2 separate regions of the Homo sapiens genome follow, and region 1 is linked to region 2. Evidence: fine-mapped expression QTL. Tissue or cell type: minor salivary gland. Region 2 holds a variant in brackets; the other region holds the start of a gene. All regions are shown on one strand. Distances are between the middles of the regions.

Region 1 (2,617 bases), 630 kb before region 2:
CACCATATCTGTCAGAATCATTACTTCCATTCTGCCTTGTATTTTCTGCTGAAGAAGAAATTGTTGCTGAAGGAGACGATCTTGATTCTGTTCCTTGCTCCCTCAGTTTCAAAAGCTATTTCTCATACAGCTTCCTGGTTGTTCCCACAATAGGACCACAATTCACTCCGTATTTCACAAGCTGATCCAAAGGATCTTCATTAGTGAGTTCTGTTACATCTAGATCGTCTTTATCATCTTGTCTGGGTTTATCAGTTTTCTTTGTGGCTTTCCTGCCGGCGGCGGGCTCGGAGCCGAGACGGCTGTGGGCTCGCGCTCCTCGTACGTAGCTGGAGAATTCCGGGGGCCCCTTTCTTTTGGCGCTGGCGGCGAGCGGCGGCCCTAACAAGTGATTTGAGACTGTTCAGTAGCTCAGATCCCTTGCAGCGGTTTGAGATTGAAGAGATTATGTAGGCAAAGTATTTTGCGTGAGCTCTTCAACCCCATGAGAGGATACATATGAACTGGACTGTCCTACGCCTCTTTACAGGCTCCGAAATTCAAAATATTGAAATATTTTGAAATTATTCGATTAGCTGCTATCCTTTGGATACAGATAACTCCTTCACTAAAGCGTTAGGGATAAGCAGCAGGAGTCAGTTTTAATATCATCATCCCCATTCCAAAATGGACCGAGAAATCATATAACTTTCTCCCGCCAGAAAGTTCAAATAAAACGCGCTAAAAAAAAAAAAAAAAACCAAACAAAAAAAAAACAAAAAAACCTCCCATTTTTTCCGGGGCGGGTGCAAGGTGACGGACGTAGATTCCTGCCAATTGTAGGAGGCTTCCTCAAGCGCGGTCCCGCCTCGTCAGGACGAACTACCAGCCAATGAGAGCACCGCTGCTTCAGCTATCGGGGGACCCATTGAAGAAGAAGAGTGGGTATTGGCCACAGCGTAGGGCTTCTGTCCAATAGGAGCATGCCTGCCGGCGGCTCTGGCGGGAGCTTGAGCGGCTCCGGAAGTGGCAGTTGGCGTAGGTGCATTCGGAGTGCGGCCGAGGTAACTACCGAGTCTTCGGCGGGCTCGCGAGCCCGGCCGCGGCCTGCTGGTTTCAGGTGAGGAGGGGTGTTGCTTCTCCTCAGGCCTTGGGCCTCTAGCTTCGGGATAAACCTCCCCACGCCTGATTCCTGGATTGGGATTCAGGAGACACCCCACGAGGTGGGCTGCACGCGGGCTTGGAACCCGGCGGCCTGAGGGGATTCGGGCCCTCGGGGCGGCGCCAGTGGTCGGGGCTAAGGAGCCCGAACCCCCGCGCGTATCTGGGTTGCTGGGCGTGGGGGCTGGGCAGGCGAGAGCTCGGGGCGATCACTGAAGGAGCCGAGTTCGCTGCTGCGGGGCCTGCCCTGGCCGGGGTGGGAGGTCGCCCGGCCCTTCCCCCGAGAGCCTAGCCTCGGGCTCCTCAGCGGCGTTGCCTGCGCCCGCTCTGAGCGCCGATTACTTCATCACTTTAAAGTTGATGGAAGAACTTCATTTTTAATTTCATCACGGAAACTGTGGAGTAAAGACTTGTATTATCCCTGTTTTACAGGAGAACAAGTTGAGCCGAGTTTAGGAAACCCGCCCAAAGTTTCCCCATGTAGTAAAAGAACAGGGATTTAATATCTATGTATCTAATCAATCTATCTATCTATCTATCTATCTATCTATCTATCTATCTAATCTGTCTATCTAATCTATCTATGTCTTTCTTTCCCCATGTAGTAAAAGAACAGGGATTTAATTTCCTTCTTTCCCTCTCTCCCTTCCCCTCCCGTCTCCCTCTCCCTCCTCTTCCCCCTCCGCCTCTCCCTCTCCCTCTCTCTTCCTCCCTTTTTCCTGTTATAAAGAGAAAAAGGTGTTATAAAGAGAAAAGCGGTGGCTCAGGCCTGTAATCCCAGCACTTTGGGAGGCCGAGGCAGTCGGATCACCTGAGGCCAGGAGTTCGAGACCAGCCTGACCAACATGGAGAAACCCCATTTCCCAGCTACTCGGGAGGCTGAGGCAGGAGAATCGCTTGAACCCGGGAGGCCGAGGTTGCAGTGAGCTGAGATCACGCCATTGCACTCCAGCCTGGGCAACAAGAGTGAAACTCCATCTCAAAAAAAGAAAGAAAGAAAGAAAGAAAAGTCTCCCTGTTGCACCCAGGCTGGAAGAGCTCACTGCAGTCTCGAACTCCCGGGCCCCAGGGATCCTCCCACCTCGGCTTCCCGCAATAGCTGGGACCACAGGTGCGCGCCACCACGCCCGGCTCATTGTTTTATTTTTCTTTTTTCTTTCTTTTTTTGAGATAGAGTCTCGCTTTGTTGCCCCTGCTGGAGTGCAGTGGTGCGATCTCGGCTCACTGCAACCTCTGCCTCCCGGGTTCAAGCGATTCTCCTGCCTCAGCCTCCCAAGTAGCTGGGATTACAGGCATGCGCCACCACACCCGGGTAGTTTTTGTATTTTTAGTGGAGACGGGGTTTCACCATATTGGCCATTCTGGGACTCCGACCTCAAGTGGTCTGCCCTCGGCTTCCCAAAGTGCTGGGATTACAGGTGTGAGCCACCGCGCCTGACCTGTTCTATTTTTCTTTTTTGGTAGAGATGGGAATTTC
Region 2 (2,760 bases):
CACCATTCTCCTGCCTCAGCCTCCCTAGTAGCTGGGACTACAGCCGCCCGCCACCACGCCCGGCTAATTTTGTATTTTTAGTAGAGACGGGGTTTCACCGTGTTAGCCAGGATGGTCTCGATCTCCTGACCTCGTGATCTGCCCGCCTCGGCCTCCCAGAGTGCTGGGATTACAGGCGTGAGCTGCAGCGCCTGGCCAGGGTTTGTCATCTTGATTTTCCGTGTCTATGCTAAAATCTGCCTCCACTACTTCTTCTGAAGGACACAAAGGCTTATTTTTGTGGCCCCTATAAATGTATTTTTCTTATTTTCGAGTCCAGCTATGGGCTTTGAAAATCTTCCTTAAATTTTATTTAGGCTTTCTAGATGTGTTTAAAGGGGGAAGAGAGACTTTATACCTCACCTCAATCTGCTATCTTGGCTAGAAGAGCCTCCCATTTTTTTATCGTGTTATTTTCTTTTCGTTAGATTTGGATTCTACTATATATGTTATTTTTTCACTTTAAGAATTTACTATGAGCCTTTTATTATTAATCAAAACCATAACTTTTTAGTAGTTATTTTCCACAGAATGGATGTATCATTTATCTAGGCAATCTGATTGTTGTATATTGAGTTGTTTCCATTTTTTTGCTATTATAAATAATGCTTTTGTGAACATCTTTATATATCTTTGTGAGCATTTCTGCTAGGGCTATCTTCTTGGAAGTGAAAAAAAATACCATATAACAGGATAGGATCTCCATAACTTGAATGACTGAAACAGTAATAGTGTGAAATGGATATGTCATGTGAATTCCAAACATTAAGAAATGATAGGTAAAAAGAGGATGGAAGTGCAACGAATTAGAACTTTATACATTGCAAGCTTCATATCTCTTTTCATTTAGTTCATTCATACAAGTATTAGACATTATGTCAAGTATAATAATGAATGGATGAGGGGATCATTAATAAGTCATGCTTACTGTTCTTTGGAATAGTAAAGGTGAACTCTCAATGAAGATAAATAGAACTACAAATAAAAAGGCAGACATAAATAAATATCTACTAAAGGTAACAAGAAAGTGGTATGAGATCTGAAAGAAGGATCTACTCAAATTGGAGATGGGACGATATCTATCAAATGACGATTAACTCTTAAAATGACAAAAAAAAAAAAAAAGCTCAGGCAACACATGAACACATACATGGTTATAGGAGAAATAATTGCCTCTGTTAATAATTTTGTGAGTATGGTTATCTCAACAAGAATTTCCTTGTAGAAGTGGATGGCCTTTTACCAGGGCTCACTCCCAGTCCAAATGGTTTGTCACCACGTGAACAGCCAGAGCAACACTACTAAGGTTGTTCTCTAGCTTCCTGACAGCAGCCTCACCCCAACAGTCATCCCCTCCTTTCTTCTTCCCACCAGAAAATGCAGTTCTTCCGGTTTTCTAACATCTTCCTACGCATGGCTCTATGCTTCAGAGGATGCTAGGCCCATCCCCTGCTAGGGGGTCCCAGTGAATCCAAGTCAATCACAGAGCATTCCTCTTGCTCATGACTGTTCTAGACAGAGACACGTGATGTAATTGAGGCAGGAGGAAAATCTTGCTGAAAAAATTGTGCTGTGAATTGAATGCTGTACCCCCACCA[A/G]AAAGAGATACATTGAAGTTTCTTGAGGGGTTTCTTGAAAAGGTTTCTTCACTGTTAGAGGAGGGGAAAGATAGGAGGTCCTTTATTCACTGGCCATTGTTGGGTCTGGATGCTGTGTTTGAAACCATTGTAGTCATCTTGTGATCAGTCTTGGGCTAATGTCAACACATGGGAGAAGGCAACCTTAAGAGGAAGAGGAGGAACTTGAAGGCTGCCCTGCCTAAAACACTGTGATAATAAATGCCCATATGGTTTGAATTATGTTTTCTATTACCCAAAGCCAAAATTTTCCTAACTGATGCAGAAGGTAAGCTGGGGAGGCTTCAGAGTTGTACCCTAGGATTCCACTGTGGCCTCAGGACAATGGCTGAAGCCTACTAAGGTGTCTCATGCAGAGGTGCAAAAAAGATTCTAGCTGACTTGGGCTGCTTTTCTGTCTATTGCCTTTGGACAGCCAGTGGAATAAGTGGATATTTGCATTCTTGTATCACAATCTCTTTCCAGTCCTCCCTTCTCAGCCTAAACATAGAGTTCCCAGCTGATTTTCCACAGGGTTCCCAGCTGATTTTTGAATGACCTAAACCAAGAAGACTATTGCTAGCACACAATACTAATCCATATATTTCTTATTCAATTCCTTTGCCATGAAAATTAGGGGAAAAACACAATAAAAATCACTTGAGGCCAAATATAATGAAAAGCAAAAACTTTGTTTTCAAATGTGAAGTGATGGCTTTTATCCTTTGCTGTTTTTCTGTGAAATTTTCCCTTGTGTCTTTGCTGTGTCTTGCTCCTCACTTACTTTTAAACTTCAAAAAATTTATTTCCTCAGCTACTCGGGAGACTGAGGCACGAGAATCGCTTGAACCTGGGAGGCAGAGGTTGCAGTGAGCCAAGGTCATGCCAATGCGCTCCAGCCTGGGCGACAGAGCAAGACTCTGTCTCAAAAAAAAAAAAAAAAAAAAATCCAAATAACACCTATTTCTCCTGCCAAAAAGTCATAATATATTAGGTTAAGCTGATTTTAGAACTTTAAATTTATAATTGGAGATGCATGTCCGTTGCAGTTTGAGGTCATCTGTAGCAAGTGACTGATTTTTCTAGTTTTTTTTTTTTTAATTCC

Evidence for each region. PIP is the estimated chance that this variant, and not a neighbour inherited with it, causes the effect.
Region 1: RFWD3 starts here. The variant in region 2 is fine-mapped to the expression of RFWD3 in minor salivary gland (GTEx, PIP 0.97).

Annotation. Positions count from the first base shown.
Region 1 is chr16:74,665,268-74,667,884 of GRCh38, reverse strand. It overlaps RFWD3 (ring finger and WD repeat domain 3), which reads left to right and starts at 1,008. Exons shown (of 13, transcript NM_018124.4): 1 at 1,008-1,099. It also overlaps the pseudogene TMPOP2. RefSeq lists a silencer at 1,329-1,478.
Region 2 is chr16:74,039,244-74,042,003 of GRCh38, reverse strand. No RefSeq gene overlaps it. Among named protein-coding and RNA genes, the nearest start is that of PSMD7-DT, 170 kb to the left of the region's middle. The variant A/G (reference allele first, on the strand shown) is at 1,638.